Linked DNA regions of Homo sapiens. The protein of the gene in region 2 interacts with the protein of the main gene of each other region in a pairwise test. Each region holds a gene or a part of one and is shown on either strand. Other genes may lie near its edges.

Evidence for each region.
Region 1: the proteins of SSX2IP (region 2) and TRIM42 interact in binary tests that used the Homo sapiens proteins (3 or more experiments, as listed by UniProt).
Region 3: the proteins of SSX2IP (region 2) and PRKAA1 interact in binary tests that used the Homo sapiens proteins (3 or more experiments, as listed by UniProt).
Region 4: the proteins of SSX2IP (region 2) and CDCA7L interact in binary tests that used the Homo sapiens proteins (3 or more experiments, as listed by UniProt).
Region 5: the proteins of SSX2IP (region 2) and TRIM37 interact in binary tests that used the Homo sapiens proteins (3 or more experiments, as listed by UniProt).
Region 6: the proteins of SSX2IP (region 2) and LMO2 interact in binary tests that used the Homo sapiens proteins (3 or more experiments, as listed by UniProt).
Region 7: the proteins of SSX2IP (region 2) and ZGPAT interact in binary tests that used the Homo sapiens proteins (3 or more experiments, as listed by UniProt).

The regions. Positions count from the first base shown.
Region 1 is NC_000003.12:140,687,688-140,691,812, reverse strand, and holds part of TRIM42 (tripartite motif-containing protein 42), read right to left. Parts: intron 4,092-4,125; coding exon 3,271-4,091; intron 846-3,270; coding exon 621-845; intron 1-620.
Region 2 is NC_000001.11:84,659,264-84,663,388, forward strand, and holds part of SSX2IP (afadin- and alpha-actinin-binding protein), read right to left. Parts: intron 3,268-4,125; coding exon 3,192-3,267; intron 3,113-3,191; coding exon 2,935-3,112; intron 1-2,934. UniProt on the Homo sapiens protein: Belongs to an adhesion system, which plays a role in the organization of homotypic, interneuronal and heterotypic cell-cell adherens junctions (AJs).
Region 3 is NC_000005.10:40,760,169-40,764,293, reverse strand, and holds part of PRKAA1 (5'-AMP-activated protein kinase catalytic subunit alpha-1), read left to right. Parts: exon of another isoform or gene 1-1,271; coding exon 1,272-1,516; 3' UTR 1,517-4,125. UniProt on the Homo sapiens protein: Catalytic subunit of AMP-activated protein kinase (AMPK), an energy sensor protein kinase that plays a key role in regulating cellular energy metabolism.
Region 4 is NC_000007.14:21,917,872-21,921,996, reverse strand, and holds part of CDCA7L (cell division cycle-associated 7-like protein), read left to right. Parts: intron 1-4,125. UniProt on the Homo sapiens protein: Plays a role in transcriptional regulation as a repressor that inhibits monoamine oxidase A (MAOA) activity and gene expression by binding to the promoter.
Region 5 is NC_000017.11:58,998,437-59,002,561, reverse strand, and holds part of TRIM37 (E3 ubiquitin-protein ligase TRIM37), read left to right. Parts: intron 1-806; exon of another isoform or gene 807-820; coding exon of another isoform or gene 821-847; coding exon 848-964; intron 965-3,102; coding exon 3,103-3,185; 3' UTR 3,186-4,125. UniProt on the Homo sapiens protein: E3 ubiquitin-protein ligase required to prevent centriole reduplication. Probably acts by ubiquitinating positive regulators of centriole reduplication.
Region 6 is NC_000011.10:33,881,590-33,885,714, forward strand, and holds part of LMO2 (rhombotin-2), read right to left. Parts: intron 688-4,125; exon of another isoform or gene 595-687; intron 351-594; exon of another isoform or gene 299-350; 5' UTR 235-298; exon of another isoform or gene 230-234; intron 1-229. UniProt on the Homo sapiens protein: Acts with TAL1/SCL to regulate red blood cell development. Also acts with LDB1 to maintain erythroid precursors in an immature state.
Region 7 is NC_000020.11:63,714,539-63,718,663, reverse strand, and holds part of ZGPAT (zinc finger CCCH-type with G patch domain-containing protein), read right to left. Parts: intron 1-4,125. UniProt on the Homo sapiens protein: Transcription repressor that specifically binds the 5'-GGAG[GA]A[GA]A-3' consensus sequence. Represses transcription by recruiting the chromatin multiprotein complex NuRD to target promoters.

The DNA.
Region 1 (4,125 bases), on a different chromosome or scaffold from region 2:
AGATATAAAGAAGAGTAAGTCTTGGATCACAAAGAAGATAGGAATAACTTTGTCCTTTCTTTTTTGGAAGGCACACTGACCTGCTTAGTGGCAGTTTCTCGACTTTCAGATGAACAATTGTTTTTAGTATAAATAGGTTCTAAATATTGCACTGGACATATTTTATAAAAATTATTGTGTGCCAGAAATTCAAATTTAACTGGGCATCCTGTATTTTCATTAGTTAAATCTGGCACCCCATCCTTGCCTGGGAATAGCACCTCATTTTTATCTTTCTCGTACCACAATTATTTCATGTCCTTCTCACACAACAATTATTTGTTTACTAGACCCTGAGCACCTTGAAGGCAGGGATTATGTTTATTTTCCTCTGAATCTCTACATCTGTACACAATGCCTAGAACAAATGTTTTTGAATCAAATAGAACAATTCTCAGGCGACATCTGCAAAGTCTGGTTGAGGCCAGCAGCCCTCTCTTTGGCCTCAAGTTAACAAATGTTCTGTGCTTAGAGGAAGAGTCCCATAGTGAGTTCTATAATCTCACGATCATCTTAACAGGGCCTCATCCAGAACCTACCATAGAAAAAAAAATCTGTCTGAGAAATAACGCACACAATACCTTGCAGATATCACTCCATTGCCCAGGACCATTATCATTGATGGCTCTAACTTTAAACACGTATTCTGTGTTGGGGGTCAGGTTGTGCAGCTCCAGATTTTGCTGCATTATGTCCCGAATTTGTCCACAGAGCTCCATTTGTACGTTGTTAGGAGGAGAAGTAATGACTTCATAGAATTCCATCTCAAAAGAGTCCACGTCTTCTGCTGGACATGTCCAGTAAACCTATGGAAGAAATGAACATACTGGTGTGGTACTAGTATACATCATTCAGCTTTCTTTCCCTTAAAGATTTGTGATGTTGACTATCTGTGGGGTGAGTTTAAGCTGACCCCATCCCCTGTAGCTACCGAAGACTTTTAATTAGACCATGCACAAGTCTTGGAAGACTGTGTGATGAGGCCTGGCATGATGGTTGTAATGAGTTTCACAAACAGAAGGTTTCCGTTCTGTTACTGTCAGTCGACATGGAGGTGACAATTGTCCTCCTGCTTGAAAAATACCGAAAAATAGAGGGGAAGAAAATAAACATCACTCATAATATCACAATTCAGTTAATTCATTATTATTTCTTTGCAATTTCAGAACACACACACACATACAAACATATATATATATATATATATATATATATATATATATATATATATATATATATATACATAAAAACTTGGATTAAGTAGCTTTGATTTCTATTTTCTTTTACTTATGTTGTATGTTTTCCTAAATCATTAAAAATTCAGTAAACTACCATCTTTGAAATTTCTCCCAAAATAATTTAATCCTTCTATTGTTGAACATTTATGTTGTTTCTAATTTTATACTCTAATAAATAAATGCTGTAATAAATACTGTTGGGCATAAATATTTGTCTGAATTTTTAATAATTTTCTTGGAAGAGATTCCTAGAACTAAAACTGAGTTTAAAAAATCTCTATGATATTAACAATACATATTGAAAAGGTACAACACTAAGTTTCAGAATATTTTCTATGCTAAAATCCTAAAGATTTGAGAGTGATGTTAACATAAACTTAATCTTCTGCATTGCTAAGCACTATGATTCCTGTATGAAGTCCATTCCATTATCCTAAAATATGAATCGATGATATTTTAAAATCAAATATCACTGTCTGGCAGTAGGTTTAGGTGTCCTCTTTCGACAGCAAATGACTTGACTGAGTTGTTTTGCGTAGGTCTCTTTTTTGAGCTCATCAGGGATGACTAATAGGTGGCATGGGGTGACTATTTTCCATGCCCAGGTATAGAGCAGATACTAGCAATCCTCTGACTCCAGAGCAAGATCCTGCCAACTTCTCAAGAGGTCTCAGTTGGTCAAGGAGATGAGACCCAGTGCTATACTTGAGGTAATAAGCATACACGATAGGCCTTGCTGATCTAGTATCAATTGGAAATGTAGTTCAGCTGCTCAGTTATGGGCATTGCTTATGTGAAGGGCAGAAACACTTCATCATGTCGATAGCTCATGGAGTGTTCTAACTTGCAAAGTATGGGTTGTTCTTTGTGTTAATTATAGACAATAAAACATAGATTGTGATGCGTCAGGAGAATGGAAAAGTAAATCTTGGTCTGTATCTGGCCTTCATTTGTTAGATCCTTAATACTAAAGTGTAGTCTGTAGACAGCAGCATTGGCAGTACCTGGAAGTTTGTGAGAACCAGAATCTCAGGCCCCTTTGAAACCTACTAAAATAGAATCTGCATTTTAACAAGATCCCCAGGTGCACATCAATGTTTGAGAACTCAAGGATCTGAAAGTCTTTGGGAGTGTTCTCAGATTATGGGAGACAAAATATGAGCTCTGCCACATGGGAGCAGGCCATGGGTTGACTGTAGGAAAAATCCAAGAGGAGGAAAGAGGCACTCTAATAGAATATTTAGTTGCATGTTAATTTTTTTCCTCCATAAACCTTAATAAAGTGTTCTACAAACAATTCCGTGTGGGTTCAGCTAGATTTGAAAGGTATGTTAAAGAAAAGCCCATTTGTTCATGTTGTCCATGTTAGGTCAAGAGGGTCAAAGGGAAGTCATGTCCCTTGAGGCCAGGCAATGGCACTTACAGAGGTCTGTGACAGACCCCACTCTTCACTCTCTCCCTTCAAGGCGGGTTGAATCTCAGAAGAGTTGAAATTTCATTGGGGATGATCCTCCCAATTTTTCCAAATCATAGAGATTCTGGATATTTGCTTTAGGAAAGGCAGCAATTTAACGGAAACAGCTGATAGGTAATGGAGCCTGCATTTCTAAGTACAATTTCTGTGCTGTCTCTATTACAGGCTTTCCTTTGGGAAACATTACACTGCCAAGTAGTGTCTTCAAATTACTTTGGTTCCCAAATTGGGTTCTCTTTCAGTTGAGAAGCTGCCTTTGCAGTGGAGGTAGGGCTTTCAGATATATTTACGATTATGAGTTAAATATATTGACTGTTTGGTTTAAGCTAATTTTGGGTTACTTAAGATTCCAGGAGCTTATCCCTTTTGAATGGGATGACCACAAAGAGTCTAGAGGAGCAGATATGAGTGACCAGATCCTAGAGGTCAAAGAGGTAAGTGCAACCTTTCCTGACTACTCACTTCTACTCTGTGCCCCACACCCTCCCACTTCCCCACTGGGCCCAGAACCTTTCTTACCTTGGCAGCTCTTGGGTACACCAGAGTCTGGTAGATAACAATTGGGCCTGGGGTCTTCACAGAGCCATCGTTGAATGAGTACCAGTTGTGGAAGCTGCTGCTGTTCTGTACAGACTGGCTGTCTGCTCCAGCACTCCAGTAGGTGTAGAGGCCGTCTGTGGGTTTGGCGGGGGTGGCTGACTGGGCTCTCCCACAGGCCTCCAGACCCACCTTGGCCTTCTTGTCAGTGTTGCTGAAGGACAACATGGAGGAGCTTCGCTGGTATATGTGCTGGTTGCCGAGGCTGTGGGTGCTGAAAGTGACCTTCCTGGCAATCATTGTTTCTGAGTGCACGGGGTAGGGGGAGGGCAGGGAGTCCCCTGAGGAGCGTACCTTCTTGGGCCCTGTGGGGAAGAGCTCATGGATGGCACTGGAAAGCTCAACAAAGTCCAAGGGCACGTAGTTTATTGAGTGCAGCCGGAGCTGTGGGTCAGGCCTGTAGGTGGTCTGGATGCCGTCCTCGATCTGGTCCACCAGGATCTTGGCTGACTGCAGGAATGCCACCTGGCCAGTCTCCTTCAGGGCTTCCTTGGAGTAGGCGATCAGACCATCCATCTCGTTCACTTTCATGGTTGTAACATACACATATTTTTCAATTTCCTTCTGCCTGGACACTTCTAGATTCTCTATCTGCTCCATGATGATCTTCTCTTTCTCCTGAAGAATGCTGCGCAACTTGAGAAAGCCATTTCTGATCTCTTTTCGCTTTGCCTCCTTGTCAGCTTTAAAGCTGTTTTTTAAGATGTTGAATTCCATTAGGTCATTATCAATTTCATATCGGACTGCAAAAATGCCAAGTTAGTTACTTTTAAAATT
Region 2 (4,125 bases):
ATCAGCAGGATGAGGGAGCAACTGAGTCTGAAGAACTCTATCAGTAGTTGAGGTCAGCAATGGGCTAGCAGAGGTCAGGGTCTCTGAGGCGGAGCAGACAGGGGAATGGCCCAGGATCCGGCTCATGGTGATTCTAGCCCCTGCCAATACTCAAAAGCTACTTGCCAGTAACTCTTCCAAGGAAGCACAGCTTCTCTTCTGAACATTTTAAAGCCTATTAGAATACTACCAATCTGTTAGAAAAATTATTGGCCGGGCGCGGTGGCTCATGCCTGTATGTAATCCCAGCACTTTGGGAGGCAGAGGTGGGTGGATCATGAGGTCAAGAGATCGAAACCATCCTGTCCAACATGGTGAAACCCTGTCTCTACTAAAAATACAAAAATTAGTTGGGCGTGGTGGTGCATGCCTGTACTTCCAGCTACTCAGGAGGCTGAGGCAGGAGAATCACTTGAACCCGGGAGGCAGAGGTTGCAGTGAGCTGAGATGTCACCACAGCACTCTAGCCTGGCGACAGAGTGAGACTCCATCTCAAAAAAAAAAAAAAGAAAGAAAAATGAATAATTATTGCACATTTCTCAGATTGAACAGAACTCTCTAACCACAAAATGAAAATAAAAAATTCGGCTGGGCACAGTGGCTCATGTCTGTAATCCCAACACTTTGTGAGGCCAAGGTGGGATGACTGTTTAAGCCCAGGAGTTCGAGACCAGCCTGGGCAACAAGACCCTGCCTCTAAAAAACCAAAAAACAAAACAACAAACTCATTTTACCTGAATTTTCGGTATATGTTTTACAAGTAAGTAGGTCAAATAATAAATGAAATGTGGATGCTACCTAGGCATTCCAACATTACATCTTATTTCTCTTGCTATAATGCTTCAAAAATCTTTCCCTACAAAAATTAAAGAGAAAAGGGAGCTAGAAAAATGGATCTTTTAAAACTAGAATATATATTTAAGAGGTCATTGTTCATCCACTTAAACATGTGAATTATGAAGAATTATACAGGATACTACCCACTGGCTGAGTAATGGGGGTGAGGAGGGTTTAATCACTGAAGAAAGATCTCCCTGACTTACCACATACTTTTGCTAACTGAAATCTGATGATGAGACGTTAAGGTTGGACCAAAAACTGAAGATGCTGCAGTAGTAATGGACACTATGCTAACCTTGAAGAAGTATTAGTGAATGCTAAGAACTGACTAGAAGTGACAGAGTTTGAGATAAGAGGTTAACTACATATAAGAGGTCAAGCAGGCCTCAAAATGGAGAATGTAAAAGATATTCGGGAATTTGAGACCAGCCTGACCAACATGGAGAAACCCCGTCTCTACTAAAAATACAAAATTGGCCGTGGGTGGTGGTGCATGCCTGTAATCCCAGCTACTCTGGAGGCTGAGGCAGGAGAATTGCTTGAACCCGAGAGGCAGAGATTGCAGTGAGGTGAGATGGTGCCACTGGACTCCAGCCTGGGCAACAAGAGCAAAACTCTCTCTCAAAAAGGCCAGACGCAGTGGCTGACGCCTGTAATCCTAGCACTTTGGGAGGCTGAGGCAGGCGGATCACGAGGTCAGGAGATTGAGACCATCCTGGCTAACATGGTAAAACCCCGTCTCTACTAAAATACAAAAAAAAAAAAAAAAAAAAAATTAGCCGGGCATGGTGGCGGCTGCCTATAGTCCCAGCTACTCAGGAGGTTGAGGCAGAGGAATCACTTGAACTCGGGAGGCAGAGGTTGCAGCGAGTCGAGATTGTGCCACTGCGCTCCAGCCTGGCAACAGAGCAAGACTCCGTCTCTTAAAAAAAAAAAAAAAAAAAAAATTTAGGTAATTTTTTTTTTTAAATGTTAAGGAGAAAAAAAGGTAAGTGCTGGGATGGGCTTATCAGCTGGACTGATTTGTGATACCACAAAATAAATAATCCTCAAATACAGGTTTAAAAAACAAGTTCTGGTATCTTGCTGTTAACTAGCATTTTCCATCAACATTATTTTCAGATTTTTATCACTAATGTGAACTTGCTGAAACCTACGATTTTAACTTATACGTAAAGCAATTAAGTAAAATGAACTTTTCACCATTATGTGATTTTTTTTTCAGATCTCTGCATATATTACTCCCATTCTCTGGAATGCTTTCTCCATGTTTTTTTTTTTAACCTCAAAAATACTTATTTTCTAAGAAGCAGTGAAAATGTCACTTTCTCTGTGATGCCTTGATTGCCATAACTATTCTGTTCTGCACATTGTACCACCTTATTACAGCACCTAACACATGTAATAATCACTTCTCCACGTCTGTCTTTCCCAAAAAGAGCTTCTTGAGGGAAAAAGTCAAAATCTTTTTAGCCTTTCCTTTCCAGAGACTAGAACATAAAGAACACCCAATAAATTTATATTTGTTTCCCAAAGTTAACAGAAGTTTCACTCTGTGAAAAGTAGAGTACATAATACTAAAACAACTGAAAGGATATTTGACATAGTGGTTATGATTGTGAGCTCTGGAGTGAGAAACTTGGATTCAAATCCTAGCACTGTCATGTGTGATACTGGGCTACTAAATATTATGCCTTAGTTTCCTTATCTATAAAATGGGGATATTTATAGTATCTAAATCATCAAATTATAATATATGAAATAATCTCATATGTTATGAGGAATATTATAAAATGAGACAATGCTTATAAAGCACTTCTTAACAGTGCTTGACATGTATTAATTCCCCGGAAAATCATCTCCAGCATTTTTCAGGAAATGTCTGAAAACACATAGGAACAGTCTTTTCAGTTGTCACAGTAATTGAAAGTAGCATAGCAGTTGAGTGTCCTATTCAAAATACCAATAGTGTCCCCATTGAGAATGCCTACCACATATTTTAATTATTCTTATTAGCAATCTGAAGACTGTATTAGAGAGGAAAGAGCCACTTACAGTTCCTGTACTATCATCTACTCTTTCTCTAGGTTTCTTCTTTTGGGGAGAAAGAAGAGAAATCATTTCCTTTTTCATTTGTTGAAGAACCTTCTTAAGTTCTGCATTTTCCATTAGGATTTGTTTCTGACGATATTCATAATCATTCAAGAGAATTTTATACATTTCATCTTCATTCCTGAGAAAGAAACTGTCAGTATGAAAATGCAGGATAGAAGGAAGTCTGATTACATTTATCAATTTAAACTGGACTTTACCTGGCTTCAGTTTTACCAGTCCTCCAGGAGCCTCTTTTTCCATCAGCTCTCCCGACATAATTCAAAATGTCCATAGCTACAAACATGAACACATAAAATTAATTCTTACCATACATGCTTAAGCATCTAAAACTCTAATGCATTCTATACACGTAAGTGGTGAAAGTGAACCTGGTATATAGGTTAGGATTTGGGCTTAAACAGCCTAATTTTCGAGTTTCTAGTTCCACCACTTGTAAGCAATGAGATCTCGGCACATTATTTAACTGCTTAGCCTGTTTCTTCTTGGACACTGGGAATAACAAAAGTATCTACCAAAGAGTTGTTGAGAAGACAAAGAAATAACTATTAAAGCACCCAACACAGTAGAGTGAACACAGTATCTGGCGCACAGTAAGTACTTAATAAATGTTACCTTATCATTATTAATTTCATTATCAGGGTTGCCTGATAATGGCCCACAGGCTGGCTGCCTGATTTTGTAAATAAAGCTTTATGGGAACACAGCCACATCTACTTGTTTATATACTGCCTATGGCTACTTTTCTTGTTACAATGGCAGAGATAAGTAGGTGCAACAAATAAGTTGTAGATCCCATAAAGCTGAAAATGTTTACTATATGGATCTATACAGAAAAAGTTTGCCATGTCCTGTTAACATTAACATCATCATTTTCATCAAAGGAGTCAAAGCCCCTGATAGTAGTAATATCTTCTGCTGCAGGTGGACATGGAAACATTTGGCGTAAAAAGGAAAAAGAGTAAATTATTATAATCTTAGAGTTAATAAAATCATTATGAAACTGTCACTTCCGATTGGACCAGGAAACAGCCAGACCGCTATAATGGAAGAGCTCTGTTTCCAGAACTAAATCCTTAATAAACTTCTCTGTGTTACACTTTATACTTTCAGCATTTCATCCTGCTTTTTAAT
Region 3 (4,125 bases), on a different chromosome or scaffold from region 2:
CCTTAAAGCCAGGTGTAGTCTGATCCTAAGGTGATAGTTTTCTGCTGCATTTGTTTTTTTGGTGTAGTTCATTTTGATAAGAGACAATGTTTTATTTAGAAATAAATATTGACTCTTCTGTAAGCTTTTATTTATTATTAAATAAGTTTTCAGTTAAGAATGAAGTTATGGCAATTCTTCATTGGCCAATTCAATTGCATTAAGCTACGCTGTTGAGTGCAGGTGTGGTGGCTTATGCCTGTAAACAGCCCAGCACTTTGGGAGGCTGAGGTGGGAGGATGGCTTGAGCCCAGGAATTTGAGACCAGCCTTAGCAACATACTGAGACTCTGTCTTTACAAAATATTAAAATATATATATATAGTATCACCTTTGCTTATGGAAGGTTGCATAGAATTATTAGATGAGGTTCACGTTTGAATTTTTTTCTTCTTTATAAACTCAAAGATAGTACACACATAGTAGCAGAAAGACACAGGTTTGAGCCATGATATGTTGGCCAAACCAGTTTGTCTGGTTATCTTTAGGTCCATATAGTACGTATCTGCTAACATATACTAATGCAGTCTGAAATACGGAATGAGTTTTATTTTTCTTGTATTTGGATCAAATTTGCAACCTTAGATTTACTAGTACTGGGGTATACCAATTGAATGCCCATTTTGTTTTTGTACTGTGTTCCCAACCTTAGTTTTTCTTCGATTTTTATTCATTGGAATTGTTGCTCTTTTATGAAATACTAAATGAAATATGAAGGGAAAGTGGAAAGTAAAAAGCACTGAGCTGAGACTTAGGAGAGTTGGGTTCTAGACTTACCTTTCTGTTCATTTGTTACCTTGGGCAAGTCATTTCTCTGGGTTTGTTTTCTTATCAATAAAGTGAGGGGCTGGATGAGATGGTTTCCAGTATACCCTCCAAATTTTAAGTGCATCGATTCTATGATTTTAATATAGAGGGATTACTTTTTATTGCTATAGAATAATATTTATTAATCCCTAGATTGTTGGTTTACTGGGCTCTTAACCTTGGATTGCAACTGATGAGTAGCTATACTGTACCCAACTTTGGTTAGCTATCTTGAGAATACATACTATATGTAAAAAAGATGAATAGTTTAATACAGGCTCATTGACTGTTTTAGAAGGTATTTAGAATAAGCGTGCTCTTGATAGCTGGCCAGCAGCCCCACTTAAAGAAGCAAATTCAATACTGTTACAAAAATTTTTGGGAGAAGGTCATAGACTATAATAAATTGAAATTCTTTTTACCCAGATGAAATTACAGAAGCCAAATCAGGGACTGCTACTCCACAGAGATCGGGATCAGTTAGCAACTATCGATCTTGCCAAAGGAGTGATTCAGATGCTGAGGCTCAAGGAAAATCCTCAGAAGTTTCTCTTACCTCATCTGTGACCTCACTTGACTCTTCTCCTGTTGACCTAACTCCAAGACCTGGAAGTCACACAATAGAATTTTTTGAGATGTGTGCAAATCTAATTAAAATTCTTGCACAATAAACAGAAAACTTTGCTTATTTCTTTTGCAGCAATAAGCATGCATAATAAGTCACAGCCAAATGCTTCCATTTGTAATCAAGTTATACATAATTATAACCGAGGGCTGGCGTTTTGGAATGCAATTTGCACAGGGATTGGAACATGATTTATAGTTAAAAGCCTAATATGCAGAAATGAATTAAGATCATTTTGTTGTTCATTGTGCAGTATGTATATAGCATAATATACACAGTGAATTATAGGTCTCAGGCTTACTTGATTTTTGGCTATTTTATATTTAGTGTACACAGGGCTTTGAAATATTAATTTACATAAAGGCCTTCATATATTATTACGTGTTATATATTACGTGTTATAAATTTATTCAATAAATATTTGCCTAGAATTCCCAAGACCTTTATAGGTGATTTTGTTTTCTGGGCTCCTTAACTTCATAAATAGCTAGTATCTTCCAGCAGTAGTAACAGTCTGGATAACTTCTTCCATATCCCTCCCTCTTTGTTTTTTTGAGACAGTGTCACTTTGTCACCCAGGCTGGAGTGCAATGGTGTGGTCTCGGCTCACTGCAACCTCCACCTCCCGGGTTCAAGTGATTCTCCCGCCTCAGCTTCCTGAGTAGCTGGAACTACAGGCGTGTGCCACCACACCCGGCTAATTTTTCGTATTTTTAGTGTAGACGGGGTTTCACTATGTTGCCCAGGCTGGTCTCGAACTCCTGACCGCGTGATCCACCACCTCAGCTTCCCAAAGTGGTGGGATTACAGGCGTGAGCCACCGCACCCGGCCTCCATATCCCCCTTTTAAAATTCTGTAGTGTATGGTAAGTCATATCAGATATCAGACCTAATTTAAATTTCATTTTAGCTTTACAAGTCCAAAAACACAGAATTTATATATTCAGATACTCTAGCACTAATTTTAGTCTTAAAATATTCCCACGATATTCTGTACACAAAATGTTCTTTTTGTTACAAGAGCTGAGTTGCATATACTGTAGATAAATCATATTATTTTTGCCAATTTCACAAATTCCTCTGGCCCATCATGTCAGTCATTATTGAGTATATGCACACATTGCTACTTATTTGATTATGTATCTTTTAAATTGATTCAGTGCATAGAAAACTATCTCTTACAAACTTTAAGTGCTCTGATATGACTTCCCCCCCAAATTTTATTATGAACATTTTTAAAAACAGAAAAATTGAAAAACTGTTTGGTAAGCACATGTATATCTACCATTTAGATTCAGCAGTTGTTAATGTTTTGTCATTTGTTTTCTCTATACCTATATATGTATAGATACAGCTAGTTATGCATATATATGCATATATGTGTTTGTTTGTGTATGTATATATGCTTTTTTCCCCCTGAACCATTTGGATGTTACAGACATACTTATCACCGTGAAAATACTTCAAGTATCTCCTACAGATAATGACATTCTCCTAAAAATCCGTAATACCATTGTAAAAGTAATAATTCCCCAATATCATCTAATCAAGCCATATTTAAATTTCTGAAGTTAACTCCAAATTTCTTTATAGCTGATTATTTCAAACTAGGATCCAATTAAAGTTTACATATGACACTTGGTTATAACTCTTTAGTTGGATATAACATTATTATTATTTTGATAAAATATGGAACAAATCAATTCTATTAATAAGTGGTCACATTTGTTTTGGGCTTAAATTACTTTTTAAAGATACTGGATTTTCCTAAGATTTCTGATTTACACTGATATTTTTTTTTGTCATTCTTAATTGCATCACACAATAGATGTAAATGAAGATGTAGTCACCTCAGATAAAATTGGTATCGTGTATGATAATATTGTATCATTTATATTTGCCTTATGTTAACTTTAAGAAATTGATTTTTTTGTATTAATCATTTTCCCATTGCAACAGAGCTATATTTTTTCTATTTTAAGAATCATATTTTAGGATTATTTTTGGCAAATACAGTGAGCACTTATGTAACCAGATGATAATGAACTCAAATGTCATGATAGCTTGCATAAATGGTGACTCTAGTAGATTTGACTCAAGCACTTCTAGAATCATGCACTGAATTCAAAAGAAAAATCTTGCTGCTTTTTGTCCAGGGCTTGTTCTATTCAACTTCTAATTTGAAAGCTGTACAAAGTAATAGAAGTTCCATTTAAATATGAGTTCAAAACTGTATTTACTTTTTATGTGGCCCTCTCTTTAGGGGATTCTAATTTTACTTAGGGTCTCTAAGTGCAGCATAATGTTCCTGATGTTAACAGAAGACTGTATTTTTAAAGTTACAAATTTGTATATGGAATTAAGTAATGGCGCTATATACGCTGTTGTGGGGAGGGGGGAAGAAAAGGAGGAACCAATTAAATAGGACCTTTTAAAAATTGTTAATTTTGTAAACTTTGCTTCTCTTATAAGTTATTGTGATTCATTTTAGTTACTGTGTTTTATTTTGAAAATATTTAAATATTGCACTTCTATAAATAGTATGATAAATGCACAGACAATTGCAGTAAATTCTTTTTTAAGCTAGGATATTTGAAATGACAACCTTTGGTTAAGTGTGTCAAGGTTGCAACAGAATTTTCACAATTTTTTTGT
Region 4 (4,125 bases), on a different chromosome or scaffold from region 2:
AGGTGCCTGTGGATTCCATTCTAGTACCTGTGTTCTCATAGAATTGAATCCTGGTCCCCCATATGACTTTTGATGATATTCACACTGTTAATTCCAATAAAGACAGAGTAGACAAACAGAAACTGTACATGAAAGGAATAGCATGAAGTTGTCGATTTTTAACAAGTATTATAAATAATGAAACGGTCTTTTCACTTTCAGATGAGAATTTTCCCTTTTTTTTTTGGTTCACTAGATAGTAGTTATCCTAATTCAGAAGTTCAACTAATGTAAATATCCATTGATTGAGAAATTTTGTATTTTTGTTGTTTTCAGTTACTTGTTGTAGTTTTCTTTTTGGTGAGTCTTATGATTGGCTTTATTGTAATAGAATGGAACACAAACTTTGAAAAAAAAAAAAAAAGGTCTTGCATTTTTGTCTAGACTATGCAGCTACCCAGTGGATCGCTGCTGAATGGAACAGGAAAGTGACAGATCCTTGGGCCTAATGTATCACTGTGTTGTGGAACTGGTCATTCATTAGAAGAGGTCCCTGTGTATCCTTTCTATCAGGTCCTTCTCATATAAATCTTGCTGCCTTTGTTGCATCTGTTAGACAAATCAGTTCGTTGCATTGAGGACACTTGAATATTTTACAGTTTTTTTTTTTTTTTTGGCAAATCTTGAAGCTTGTGACTATCTGAAACTCTTTTAATACCTTTTGAAGGATCAGAGCCCTGCGTACCCCAGGAATGCACACCGTTTTTTTGAAAGTGTGCTCTTTCCTTTTGTTCCTAATCAGTAATTATAGCCCCCTAATGGTACCTCTGGAGCAGATGCAGAAGTCAAAGATGCAGAAGGAGGAATTAGCTAGTCAGACACAGGCTCGCAGCAGTGGTGGGGCTGAACACAATAGCACAGGGACTAATGCAGTTGCTGCTGGAAGCAGTTTATTCCTATCACCAACCCTCTCCATTCCTTGTATGTATTTCCATTAAATCCATAAATGGGGTGCTCCTCCTCCTTTAAACCATTTATGTTAAAAGAAGCTTCTGGGCCAGCAGGGCTGTTTGAATTTTGTAGAATGGTGAGAAGGCCAAAAGAAAAAGACTGAAATTGACACACTGTCCCTCTTAGTGCCTCTGCAGGGACTGAACTCAGTGGCTATTATGTAGCTACAACATAGGCACACTTTCATAAGTATTGTCTGTGTTTCTCTAGTCTGGGTGTTTTCCTTGCGTATTAGTTCTGAGTGCTAAACAACAACAAAAGGTGTCTTTGAAAAGATAAGGTGGCAAACATTGTTTAACATACCTCCTTGAGAAAAGTTTCAATATTTTCCCCAAGAATGATGTCAGAGTTAGGCTTTGCTAGTGCTGCACTACGTGTGGCTGGTAAAAAAATTGTTAGTGGAACTCTACTTCTGTAAGTGTTGTTCTTGTTTGTCCCTTGCAGTGATTTTATTAGATGGTGGGAAAGTGTTTGTATTAACCCTTCAGCATCACTGAACTTGGGGTATCCCATTTCTGTATTTATGTTACACTTCCTTTGATTGAACCATTATTTTCTAATTATTTTTAATCAAGAAGCATTAAAATAAGGATGAAAGTAAATAGATTAAGGATTACCAGTTTCCTAAATGGAACCTGACTAAATGTAAAATTAAGTCAACACACCCACACAGAGAATTCCACGAAGCTAAGTAGCTTTTGAATACACAACTCTGTATATGCTAGTGCAGTGGTCAAAGTGTGAGATGGAGGACCTGAGACCCTTTCACGGGTCCATGAGGGCGAATGTAATGTCATAATAATACTAAGATTATTTGCCCTTTTTGCTGTGTTGATATTTGCACTGATTGTGCAAAAGCCAAAGTGGAGAAAACTGCTGATCTTTAGCATGAATCCAGGTGGTAGCAACAAACTGTATTAGTAGTCATTGCATTCACCTCCATGCACTCAATTTAAAAAGAAAATGTCAGTTTCACATAAGAATGTTCTGATGAAACAGTAAAAATTATTAAGTCTCAACTGTTAAGGACATCTTTTTAATATACTGCATGATGAAATGGGAAGTACATGTGAAACATTTTTGCATAACCATGTACAATGATCATCTGGTTAGCTGAAGGAAAAGATCCTGTGTATAGTGAGACTATGTTCCAGGGCTAGAAAGAACTGCAAAGAAATCTTGAACTGCACTGTTTGTTGTTGGTAGTATATTGGTGGCGTCAGTTTGGCGCTATTTTGTGTTTATTGTAGATAGAGCACCACATGGATAAGTATATTAAAAATTTTGGGAATCGAGGGTTTTCCTTGTGGTGGAACGGCGATGCTAATGTGAGATGAGGGAGAGATGAGGGAGCAGAGGAAGAAGCCTCCGTGTTGGATTTGAATTCAGGGTGTCACCATGAACTTGTGATTTACCTATTTAAAATATCCTTGCTCTGTCCAAAGAGCCTACAAGCAGTGATACTTAATTAACCGAGATGCATTGTGTTCTCCGAGCTTGGTTTTTAAATGCCATTTCCCAGTGAAAGGTTTCAGGGCTCCTTGGAGAAATGGCTGATTTGAGGTCTGGGACAGGAAACATACAAGGTTAGCTTGCCATGCTTGTGTCAGAAAGCAAGGAGGTGTTGAAAGACCCTTAGTGCCATGTCAGAAAGACAGAGGATGACTTTCCAAGAAGCTCCCAATGGCCAAATTTGGGACAGTCAGCATTATGAGAGTATGGATTATAACACATTTAATAATAATTTTTAGAAATCCATGGATATACATGGTAGAAGAAAAGGGGGAGAGTGAGAGAAAGACTATATTATACAAGAATGCCAGCTACTTTGTGAAGGAGAGAGAAAATCTGAAAATTTCTCTTTTGCAGTCCCTAATGTAATAATTCATTCAAGGGTGCCCTGGCTCATGCCTGTAATCCCAGCACTTTGGGAGGCTGAGGTGAGAGGATCACTTGAGGCAAGGAATTTGAGACCAGCCTGGGTAACATAGACCCTGTCTTTATTAAAATAAAAAATATAAAAAAAAAGAATTGTCAATGGACGCTGAAACTGTTGAGCAAGATGTTATCAGGGAGGCTATTCACAGAATCTCAAGTCTCACTCTGCATATTCCTTATTAGTGACAAAGGAGAAAGGGTGTTTTTTGTTGTTGTTATTGTTTTTTGTTTTGTTTTGTTTTAAAAGCGAAGAACAAATCAGGCTGATTCCACCTTAACTTATTGACCAAACAGCAACATCACTAAAAAAAGAGACAGCCAGACCTTATGTGCTTTCCAAAGGAAGAACATAGCACTTCCTAAAAAGTAGTCTTGGCAAAAGCAAGCCAACTAGAAGTAAAGCCTCCGGATTCAACTCCCAAATTGTAAACCCAAATGAGTCTGTTAAACACCACCTTGGGGATGCAAAAAAAATAAAACTTCAGACTTGGACAGACTCCACAGTCAAGTGACCCAGCTTCTTCAAAAATAAACTGCAAGAGAAAAGAGATAAAGGAGTGATGAGAAGGGATTTAAGAGCCATGTTGATCAGTGTGAACCTTATTTGGATCATGATGCAGATAAACTAAGTTTTTAAAAAATGAGGCAGAAGAACTGTGAATACAGACTGCACATTTGATGATGATACAGAGTGACATGATACTATGTCTACAGTTGCCTCACAATAATTTAGAAGAAGGGGAGTTGGGTCGGGATCCAGGGGAAGCACAGTTAGCCTTGGGCAGATAATTACGGGGAGGATCAATGTGTGCTCATTACAATATCTTCCCATCTACTTTTGAAATATCTTTGAAAGTTTTTATAATGAAAAATTTTTTAAAAATTACTAATTAATAGTGGGATAACTTGACATTTTGTGCCCCCTTATGCAATGCATTGAGGAGTACATGTCACCTATGTAGAATGGTGACAAAAATACATAACCTGAATCTAATCATGAGGAAACACTCAGATAAGCTCAGAATACATGACATTCTACAAGGCAGTTGTCATGGTCTATCTAAAAAGAAAGTCAGTGTTGTGAAAAACAACAAAAAACAGTGTCATAAAAATCAAATAGAACAGTTGCAGATATTAAAATATAGAGTTACAGTAAATCGTACTATTGAATTAATGTTAATTATTTTCGGTACAATT
Region 5 (4,125 bases), on a different chromosome or scaffold from region 2:
TATTCTTTTAAAAATCAACTGATGTGGCCAGGCACAGTGACCTGTAATCCCAGCACTGTAAGAGGCTAAAGTGGGAGGATCTCTTCTCAAGCCCAGGATTTCAAGACCAGCCTGGGCAACATATTATAGCAAGACCCTGTCCCTCCAAAAAATTTTTAAATTAGCAGGGCATGGTGTCATGTACCTGTGGACCTATCTACTTGGGAGGCTAAGGCGGAAGTATCCCTTGAGCTTAGGAGTTTGAGGCTGCAGTGAGCTATGATCAGGCCACTGCAGCCCAGCCTAGGGTGACAGAGCGAGACCCTGTCTCTCAAAAAATAAAAATAAATACAAATCAACCGACATACACAAAAAAATTAGATGCCCAATTAGAATACAAACTATTATTAGAATTGCCAGAATTTCTAATATTCATACACCATGTGGATTTGTATAACACATTTATATTTATGTTTTAGGCTAGGGAATATAATTATGTCTATAATGAATCAGGATTAAAAGAGTTCCTGTTATCTCTTGTGACTGAAAAAAAAACAGTGTTTGATTTGGAAAAAAGTATTATCAGTATAATAAAATTAATGCTGGTTTCAAATAATAACTTTCAGGTACTATGGAAAGGGCAATTTTAAACTTTGAGAACAGAAATAAAACCACTCTAAATAGCTAAAGAGAATCGAGGTTTGTGCGGTTACTTTTGTCTTTGTTTTGTTAGTGTTTAGTTTGTTGAATTCTTGGCATTCCATGTAAAATTCAATAGGAATCTCAGTTTAGCAGATACGGAGATTTCTGTTTCCTTTTACTTACAGTGGTTTCTTTTCAGAAACATGTTCTCCTTCCTTCCTGCCAGGAATGAGTAGCGACAGTGACATTGAATGTGACACTGAGAATGAGGAGCAGGAAGAGCATACCAGTGTGGGCGGGTTTCACGACTCCTTCATGGTCATGACACAGCCCCCGGATGAAGGTGCAGCACATGATGTCATTTTACACAGATTACTAAAACCACCGCTGCCGCTTCTCTTTCTTCTTCTTCTGCTGCTGCTACTTCTACTTTTTCCGCTCTACTGCTTTTGCTTCTTCTGCTTCTACTTCTTTTTTTTTTTTTTTAATTATTGTCATTTGTGAGACAACATTCTTTGGTTAACTATTATGGTGAGTACTAAAAAAACACAGCCAGTAATATTTGGCTTGGTTGCACCTAATGAGTGCTACTTACTGGGCAGAGACGGGGTCCACAACCTGCTTTTGTATAGTCTGTGACCTGAGAATGGTTTTTACTTTGTAAAGAGTCTTTAAAAACCAAGCAAAAGAAACAAAGAAGAATTTTCTTTGTGGGTTTTTTTTTTCTTTTTTTTTTTTTTTGCCCCGAGATGGAGTCTTGTTCTGTCACCCAGGATGGAGTGCTGTGGCGTGATCTTGGCTCACTGCAACCTCCGCCTCCTGGGTTCAAGCGATTCTCCTGCCTCAGCCTCCTGAGTAGCTGGGATTACAGGTATACACCACCACGCCTGGCTAATGTTTTTGTATTTTTAGTAGAGATGGAGTTTCACCATGTTGGCCAGGCTGGTCTCGAACTCTTGACCTCGTGATCCACCTGCCTTGGCCTCCCAAAGTCCTGGTATTACAGGCGTGAGCCACCGTGCCCAGCCCAAAGAAGAATTTTCAAGAGAGTCCATTTGTGGCCTACAATGCCTAAATATTTACCCTTCATAGGAAATGATTGCCAATCCCTGGGGAGATTTCAGATGTTTGGGTTTTTTTTCCTTTTCTAGCCTACTGTAAGATAACTTTAACCTTTTAAAATAAAAATAACTTAGAAATACATGCAGATTATGAAATAATTTTTATTCCCTCCTACCCCCAAAAAAGTTATTAGGAAAAAAACAAGAGAAACCTACTATTAATATTTTCCCTTGTTTTCTTCTGTCTTATTTGCATTGCATTTCTTCTTCTTTTTTTTTTAGACAGAGTCTTGCTCTGTCTCCCAAGCTGAAGTGCAGTGGCACAATCTCAGCTCACTGCAACTTCTGCCTCCTGGGTTCAAGCAATTCTCCCACCTCAGCCTCCTGAATAGCTGGGACTACAGGCATGTGCCACCACATCCAGCTAGTTTTTGTAATTTTTAGTAGAGACAGGGTTTCACCATGTTGGCCAGCCTGGTCTCGAACTCCTGACCTCAGGTGATCTGCCCACCTTGGCCTCCCAAAGTACTGGGGTTACAGGTGTGAGCTACCATGCCAGCCCTACCTAAATATTTTATAAATAGTTTTTTATTCTGCTTTTTTCACTTAAATATATTTGTATGTTATTTAAAATTTCATAAACTTCATTTTTTATGGCAACCTAATATTCTATCATGTGGATATACCATAAGTATTCTGCTGTCAAGCAGTTTTCTGGAATACAGATTAATCAGTAAAAGGATATACTGTCAAGTTAGAGAAATACACATTTAAAGTTACCCAGAGGCCTTAATAATCAATCTGAACATTCCTCTGCAAGATATCCTGGAGTGACAACATTGTTAAGCCTATGCCATTTTCTGCTTTATATTTTGCATATTTTCCTGGTGCTCTGGTATCTTTTTCAATACAGAACCAAGCATTTGATGATTTGTAAGTATTAAGGCATCTTTAGTAACTTCCTCTGCTTCTAAAATAAGCATCCAAATTTTGTGCAAGTTATTTGGAGTGCTGGTGGGTTTTTGTAGTGATACTTGAATGCGTAGTTTAATTGGCTTTGAAATATGTTTTATGTTTATAAGGTCTTGAATCTTGAGAATATACACCATTGCTTCTTGTTCCCTTTTTAAGCTGTCCCCAGATTGTCCCCAGGAGGACAAAATGAGACAATTCCTGTCATCTTTTAATTGTGGGTGTCTATTACACATTTTGTTTTTTTCTCCTTTATTTTTCCTTTGTGTTTGCTTATACCTGACTCAGATCACAAATTCTCTGAAGACAGAGATTTGTTCACAACCCAGCACATCTTTATCACTTAAATAACACATTTGGTAAGATTATTTAAAGACTTGGGAAGGAAAATACTGCCCTTGTTATATGCTTTTAAATTTTAAATTTTTTATTTATTTTTTAATCATAGATACACATTCCAGTTTTCCTGATGGTGAACAAATAGGCCCTGAAGATCTCAGCTTCAATACAGATGAAAATAGTGGAAGGTAATTGCCAAATCAAGAGAACTGACTTGCAAGCTACCTTGACCCTGAATTTTGCTGTAGTTGGTGCTCAAATTTGTCATCAGTCAGATAATCAGATTTGGTCTTATTTCTTCATTATCTCGACCTGAAATAGTAATTTGGAAACTGTTGGAAGGTGGCACAGTTTAGTCTAAGACAGCAGTAGTACATGGGAAAAACAGTATGGGAAGAGTTCTTTGTAATGTAAGGAAATAACAATGTAGTTCTCTATTAATTTAGCAAATTTGTACATTCACAAAAGGCAGTTTGTCTACTACAGCAGAAGGCTGGTTAACTGCCAGAAAATGTACCTCCAGGCCCTGCATGCCGTCAGTAACCCGCCCGGCATTGGTGCTCTACTGTCTTTGGCTAGAGCTTAGTTGTGTTTAAATAATCATCTTTATATTTGGGGTTTTAATTACAGTTCCATTAGTGCCTGTAGATTAGTGAACAGAAAATTGCTTTGGAAGAGATTCTGCCCTGTAGACACTATGTGAATAACTGAAGTAACACTAGACTGAATCTCCTTTTTGGAGTATGTATCTTCTCTCACTTGTTCAAGTACAGGCACACTGTTCAACCGCATGGTATCTTTCTGTTGTGTGACTTCTACAAATGTAATTTTAAATGAAATTAAGTTAACATGGATTCATTACGTTCCTGGCCCTGTAGACACGTGTAAGATTATTTAAAATTCTTTCATTTTTTTCTGCCTCTTACTATACGACTGTAGTGCAACAAATATTTTAAAGCCCCCTTTTCTTCTTTATTTTCATTAGTTGTACATTGATTTCAGTGTCAACACATTTAAAGATTCATTCATGTTGCACAGTGGCTTACATGAACGTGAAACTGTGATATAAGGTTTTCTTTCATACTCATAATTAGCCCAAAACAGTTGCCAAACTTTGCCATTGTGCTCCTGC
Region 6 (4,125 bases), on a different chromosome or scaffold from region 2:
TACACACTGTCTCTCAGCTCAAATATGTATGCTCTCACTCCAAGTTCAGATCACAATTTACAATTCCGCATTTTGTAATTGTTAAGTGCAGTCTGGCTTCCCCAAAGACCTCAAGCTCATTCTGCCCAGGATTAAATCCAAGAGCCTTCTTAGCCCAGTTTCTGGCATGCAGGAAGCATACAATAATGGAAGAAATGAATGAATGAACAAATGAATTAATGAAACCCACCTTACCTGCCTCTCCACTAGCTACTGCAAGTTCAGGTTGAAAAATATCTTCTTTTCAGAGCAGTTGTTACTGAAAGAAAATGAGAGGAACCCTCTGGTTTAGACAGCTAGAAGTAGAAAGGAGAAAGAGAGAGAAAAAAAATTCTTATCTTCAGTTAGAGAAATGTTTCCACAGGTCCTTGATAAACTAGGGAAAAAGACCCCCAGGGCTTTCTGATAGCAGGCGGGTGTCCTTGATAGCGTGACGGGTGGGGCAGGCGGAACTTTGGCATCAGGGCGCAGGGATGGATTCTAACGGTTTCTTTGCTGGTTGAAGAGGCTGCTTCCTGCCGACTTCTTTTTTTTTTCTTCTTATTCTTCACTTACCAGCCCAGCTTGTGAATGTGAAGGAGTTGTCCCTTTTCCAAATGAACAGGACTGGTGTATCAGGTGGCCTTGCCATTGTATGCACCTGCCGGTCTGAGAAAGCAAGTGTTCTGTCTGTATCTGCAACTGTTTGTGTCTCACGCTTTGCAAATCTCTTATCCCTCTGAGTCTCAGAAATCCCCCATGAGTGAAAAAGGGCAGGTAGCCTGGTGCCCATTTGATAGGAGAGGAAATTAGGCCAAAGCCCTTTCAAATCTCAAACATGCCTAAACTAGAGAACTGGATGACCCTTGTTCCTTAGACTCGGGCATTCTTGCTCACAGGAATGTCTTTTGAAAATTTATTTTTCAAGAGGAAGAGCTTCATGAGGCAAAAGCCAACACGCAGACACCGTATTACCTAGCGGCATTTATTGGATTTGTCTCTTGAGTGATTCAAACAAAAGATTACGGTTATAAATAGATAGACCTAATTGTGGCAAACAATGCCTACCTTTTATTGAGCACTTATTATGTGCCAGGCATTTTAAATACTTGATCTTATTCAATCCTGATAAGAAACCTCCTGAGATCAGTAATATTATTCCAATTTTACAGAGGAGGAAAGTGAGAGAGAAATTTCAATAACTTTCCCAGGGTCATACAGCTGCATAAATGTAGGAGACGGAATTTAGACCTAGGTCTTCTGACTATGCCCTCACCTCATTCACTATGCCAGTGTTTCCCAAATTTCCTACGTTTGCATGTTAGGAATACATATTCTTAGGCCCACACCCAATCTCCCAGATCAAGGGAGAAACCTCAGAAGGCCTTTCCCTGGATACCTGATCTAAAAAATAGCCTCCTCCCCAGGCACTAACACACCGTTATTTAATTTTCATCATTATATTTGTCACTACTTGATATTTTCTTATTTGTGTATTTGCATATTGTCTTTCTTCTCCACTAAGGGATGAGTTCCATAAGTGCAGATACAAGATGTCCAACGTTTTAACTTCTAGAAACTGACCAAGGGGGATGGTACCTACGAAGTACTCAAAACATATTTATTAGATAAGTTAGTAGACACTGTCCAAAGTATTGTGTTAAGAAGAATTGTGAGTCTGGACCCAGGTTCTGGAGAGAAGATGAGAACACTGGTGTGTGTCCTGAGGTTTCAGGATGGGAAAGTGTTGGCACATAGGCCATGTATTTGCCATCCCAGAGAAAGAAACTCAGTCTCCCCAAAATTAAGAGGAAGATGACACAGAAAGTCAGTAGGAGAGCCAGGTAAAATGCAATCACTTCTTTCCAAGACCTTTATCTCTTACTTGGAAGTCAAAATGAACACATTTGTAATGGAGAAGAAATCCATGGTCAACAGTGAGGTGCTGATCAAAACTGCAATCAGATTGGATTAGGGAGAGATCAGAGTGGATGGACATCAGCATGGAAGGCTTTCTGGAGGAAGCAGAAAATCGAGTTGCCCCTTGATGAGCGATTATCTGGAAACTTCCTTTGTTGTCAGGCTTGTACTTTGAGCTATACATAGAGTGTTTTTTAGGCCCTTGCAACACCCTAATGAAGTAAGTATTGTAATCATAATTTTATGGGTGATGAAACTGAGTCACAGAAAGCCTACAGAACTTGCTCCAGCTCACAGGGCTACTAAGGACTGAGTAGGAATTAACAGCCGGTGATTTCAATAATGGTTTTCTTAACAGAGCAGGTGTGTCTGGTAGGAAACAGCCCAAGTAAGGGTCTGGGTATGGGGTCAGTTGGAGGAGCTGGAGGTGCAGTTCACAGGTAGTAATGAAGTCAGCTGGTTGCAGAATTGGACCATAACAATATTCCAGTGAAAGGAACCAGATCTGCTGTTCTCTCCCATTTAAAAGCCTTGGATGCCAAAACGCACCACACCTGACCCGGTGATCACAGGCAATTCAAAGGTGTATTACTTATGCAGGCATAGGCAGCGAGGGAAGCCACTGGTTGAGGGCCCCACTGAGAAGAGGACTCCCTGACTTCTGGGGAGGAGAAAGAGCCTGGTGCTGGGGACCTACGTAGATATAGGACAGGGGCCCACCTGTTGAATAATGCCGAGAGGAGGTAGTGGGGGAAGATTAATTTTGAGTGATCTGCTCCATTGGGGGTCAGGCTGGGGGTGGTCAATCAAAAAGAGTAAGGGTGAGTTTTCTTGCATATGATTACTAGGTGCTGCAGAGGTGAGTGGGGCTGAGTGGGTGGTGAGGGGTGGGGTGCCCTGATGGTTTCTGCCCCAGTGGGTGTTAACTATTTGGACAAATGACATTTTGCTGGGAGCAACTTTTTGCACTCAACTCAATTTCTTCAAAATTCACTCCCTAACATTTGGTTCACCATCCAAAGAGCTAATATACTTGTATATAGGCTGTACCAATTTTACATAGCCAGTGCAGTATGTAAGTCTACTTGTGGGCAGGAGGGCTCCTAAAACAAGGTCACCCCAGGCTACAGGGGACATCCAAGTCCTAGGGAGTTCAGAGTACCACATGTAGAATTTGGTTTCTGTTTGGTGGTACATCCATTGGGCTATTTGGATTACTTTGCCTTGCAATATTTATCCACGTCCAGCAGGATACACTATGCCCTCTGAGAGCATATACTCCTTCTGGGAAGCTGGCATATCATCTGGAGCTAGTCTCTTATCTGCCACCCTGGCAGTTAGGGGTTTTTGCCCTTCAGTGAAAGCTTCCAGTGCTGCTGTTTTTTGTGTTACGTGGGCTGATAGGACCTCGGATCTTTCTCTGAAGTATCTGCTAGTTTTCCTGGTGTGATCATATTGTAAGACCTTAGTCCCACTCTTCTGGCCCCAAGTCATGCTTATACCCAGGACAATGGGTAGGAAGACTGCCCATCACCTCTGACTGGGGACTGTGACCAGCAGGGTTAAATTGCAGAACAGTCAGAAAAATGTGAAGGGGGTTGTCAGACTTAGCAGTGTGCAGGTGAGTTTAGGTATTTGGGACGTCAGGAAGAAGTTATCTAGGAGTGGAACAGGTGAAGCAGGTTCCCTCTGGGGCTTCCAATCTCTTGTGTTCCTTTAATATCTGGGGTGGGCCATGACACTAGTTGTGCTGTGTGGGCCTAGGAAGATACAAGCATAGGCATGTATTTATACATTTGGATAGATGTATGATCTGGACTCATGAGCCGGGGACCAGACTGGATAACATCTGAGCCAACATAGGACAGGGCAAGACCTAGGAGCCTAGACCAGAAGTGTTTGGTGTTGGTGGTTTTGTGGTGCAAATAAGGGAGTGGCCTGCTCATGGGGGCAGATAGGAGGCCCAACATTGCATGAGGTCCAGCCACTGGGATGTGGCTTTATCTCTGTGTACATACAAGTTAGCCCGGAGATAGCCTTAGGCAGTAGAATTGCTTTGGGAGGCCCAGGAAGGGAAGTTCCAGCCACAATGGCAATGAGGTTTATTGTGCCCAATGGGGAGGAAGTGAGAGGAGAGAGTTATAACTTTGGTGGCCTGTGTGGTGGCCACCCTTTTCAGGTATGTGA
Region 7 (4,125 bases), on a different chromosome or scaffold from region 2:
GGCTTGAGTGAGACCTTCTCTCTATTAAAAAAAAAAAATTGGGGGCTGGGCATGGTGTTTCACGCCTGTAATCCCAGTGCTTTGGGAGGCCAAGGCGGGCAGATCACCTGAGGTCAGGAATTCGAGACCAGTCTGACCAGCACGTTAAGACTAAAATACAAAAATTAGCCAGGTGTGGTGGTGTGTGCCTGTAATCCCAGCTACTGGGAAGGCTGAGGTGGGAGGATCACTTGAACCCGGGAGGCAGAGGTTGCAGTGAGGCAAGATTGTGCACCACCATTCTCCAGCCTGGGCGACAGAGCAAGACCCTTTCTCAAAAAAAAAAGAAAGAAAGAAAAACTTTTTTGGAAAATTTACAAATATGCAGAAATAAAGACACTCTTGAATAACGAGTAAGTCGAACAAAAAAACAAAAGGGAGATTAGGATGTCTTGAGATCAATGAAAATGGAAATACAACAGAACAAAACAGCCAAGTGGCAGGGTGCGGTGGCTCTTGCCCATAATCTCAGCACTTTGGGAGGCCGAGGCAGTAGGACTCCTTCAAGTCAGGAGTTTGAGACCAGCCTGGGCAACAAAGTGATACCCTGTCTCTGCAAAAACTTTTTTTTTTCTTTTCTTGAGATGGAGTTTTGCTTTTGTTACCCAGGCTGGAGTGCAATGGTGTGATCCTGGCTCACTGCAACCTCTGCCTCCCAGGTTCAAGCGATTCTCCTGCCTCAGCCTCCTGAGTAGCTGGGATTACAGGCACCTGCCACCACGCCCAGCTAATTTTTGTATTTTTAGTAGAGATGGGGTTTCTCCCTGTCGGCCAGGCTGGTCTCGAACTCCTGACCTTAGGTGATCCACCCACCTTGGCCTCCCAAAGTGCTGGGATTACAGGTGTGAGCCACTGTGCCTGGCCTCTGCAAAAACTTATAAAAGAAATTAGTTAGGTGCAGTGGTGTACACCTGTAGTCCCAGCTACTTGGGAGGCTGAGGCAGGAGGACTGATTGAGTCCAGGAGCTCAAGGCTACAGAGCTATGATCGCATCGCTGCTCTCCAAACGGCAACAGAGTGAGACTGTGTCTCAAACAACAAAACAACAACAAAAAACAATCTTATGGAATGCAGTGAAAGCAGTGTTTAGAGGGAAATCTGTAGCTGTAAATGCTTACATTCAAAAAGAAACACCTTGGCCGGGAAACGTCTACTCAGGAGGCTGAGGCAGGAGAATCGCCTGGGCGGCGGAGGCTGCAGTGAGCTGAGATCATGCCACTGCACTCCAGTCTGGGTGACAGAGGGAGACTCCATCTCAACAGCAACCAAAAAAAAAAAAAAAAAAAAAAAAAGAAAAGAAAAAAGAGATCTCAAATCAATAACTTAACTGTATACCTTGAAAAATTAGGGGAAAAAAAGAGCAAATTAAACCCAAACCAGCAGAAAAAAGGAAACAAAGGTTAAAATGGAAATAAATGAAACAGAATGGGAAAACAATAGAGATCAGCAACAAAAAAGATCAACAAAATTGACAAACCTTTAGCGAAAATGACCAAGAAGAAAAGACAGGCCATGCGTGGTGGCTCATGCCTGTAATCCTAGCACTTTGGGAGGCCAAGGCTGGTGGATAACCTGAGGTCAGGATTTCAAGACCAGCCTGGCCGACAGGGAGAAACCCCATCTCTACTAAAAATACAAAAACTGGCTGGGCATGGTGGCTCATGCCTATAATCCCAGCACTTTGGGAGGCCAAGGTGGGCGGATCACCTCAGGTAGGGAGTCCAAGACCAGCCTGGCCAACATGGTGAAATCCCATCTCTACTAAAAATATAAAAATCAGCCAGGCGTGGTGGTGCACGCCTATAGTTCCAGCTACTCAGGAGGCTGAGGCAGGAGAATTGCTGGAATCTGGGAGTCGGAGGTTGCAATGAGTGAGATTGCACCACTGCACTCCAGCCTGGGAGACAGAAACAGACTCCGTCTCAAAAACAAAAAAACAAAACAAAACTAGCTGGGTGTGGTGGCTCACACCTGTAATCCCAGCTACTCAGGAGGCTAAGGCAGAATTGCTTGAACCTGGGAGGCAGGGGTTGCAGTGAGCCAAGATCATGCCACTGCACTCCAGCCTGGGTGACACAGTGAGACTCCATCTCAAAAAAAAAAAAAGAGGAAGAAAAGAGATGACTCAAATTGCTAAAACCAAGAGAGAAAGTGGAGCTATTACTACTGATCTTACAGAAATAACTAGGGCTATAAAAGGATACTATGAACAATTGTATGGTAACAGATTAGATAACATAAACAAAATGGACAAATTCCTAGAAACATGCATGCAAACTATCTAAACTGACTCAAGGCTGGACGCGGTGGCTTATGTCTGTAGTCCCAGCACTTTGTGAGGCCGAGGCGGGTGGATCACCTGAGGTCAGGAGTTCGAGACCAGCCTGGCCAACATGGTGAAATGCTGTTCCTACTAAAAATACAAAAATTAGCCAGGTATGCTGGCGTGCGCCTGTAGTCCGAGATACTGGGGAGGCTGAGGTGGGAGAATCACTTGAACTCGGGAGGTAGAAGTTGCAGTGAGCCAAGATGGCACCACTGCACTCCAGCCTGGGCGACAGAGCGAGACCAAACTGACTCAAGAAGAAACAGAAAATCTGAATAGACCTATAACAAATAAAGAATCAGTAGTCAAAAAACTTCCAATGAAAGAAAAGTTCAGAAACTTTCACTACAGTTATACGTTTTAGCTTCCAAAAAGAAAAGTCAATTTCAATAAGGAAATTGAATCAATAGTCAATAAACTTCCAACAAAAGAAAAGTCCATCTCTCTCTCTCTCTCTCTCTCTCTATATATGATTGTATATATCACTTCACTGTTGAATTCTATCAAACATTTGAAGAAGAATTAACACCAATCCCTTTTTACCTCTTCCCATAATATAAAGAATACTTCCTAACTCATTCTATGAGGCCAATATTATGCTGGCATCAAAGCTATACAAAGACATGCCAAGAAAAGAAAACTACAGACCAATATCCCTTATCAATACAGATGCAAATATTCTCAACAAAACAGCAGCAAATCAAATCCAGCAATGTTATTACATGATAAGGCCTTAAACTTTTAACTGTTAAAAAGATAAGGCTCGCTGCGGTGGCTCACGCCTGTAATCCCAGCACTTCGGGAGGCCAAGGTGGGTGAATCACGAGGTCAGGAGTGCAAGACCAGCCTGTCCAACATGGCAAAACACCGTCTCAACTAAAAACACAAAAAATTAGCTGGGCATAGTGGCGGGCACCTGTAGTCCCAGCTACTCAGGAGGCTGAGGCAGGAGAATTGCTTGAACCCGGGAGATGGAGGTTGCAGTGAGCCGAGATCGCGCCACTCACTCCAGCCCGGCGACAGAGTGAGACTCTGTCTCAAAAAAAAAAAAAAAGAAAAAGAAAAAAGATAGGGCCAAGTGGCTCATGCCTATAATCCCAGCGCTTTCGGAGGCTGAGGCAGGAGGATCACTTTAGCCCAGGAGTTTGAGACCAGCTTGGGCAACAGAGTGAAATCTCATCTCTACAAAAATAATAATAATAAAGAGATAATACGCCATGAATATGCGTGCTTTATCTGAGGAATTCAAGGATGGTTCAACATACGAAAATCAATATACCACATTAACAAAATGAAAGGAAAAAAACCACACATGATCATCTAAAGGAAAAAAGCATTTGAAAAATCCCACACAGCTGGGTGCAGTGCAGTGACTCACCCCTGTAATCTCAGCACTTTGGGAGGCTGAGGCAGGATTGCTTGAGCCCTGGAGTTTAAGACCAGCCTGGGCAGCAAAGCAGGACCCTACCTCTACAGAAAAATTAAAAAATTAGCTGGGCATGGTGGCTCATGCCTGTAGTCTCACCTACTCAGGAGGATGAAGTAGGAGGATCCCCTGAGCCCAGGAATTCGAGGTTGCAGTGAGCCATGATCATGCCACTGCCCTCCAGCCTGGGTGACAGAACAAGACCCTATCTTTAAAAAAAAAATCAACACCCTTTCATGATAAAAAACACTCAACACACTATGAATATAAGAGAATTTCCTCAACTCGATAAAGGGAATCTACAGAAAACCTACAAGTAACATCATATTCAACA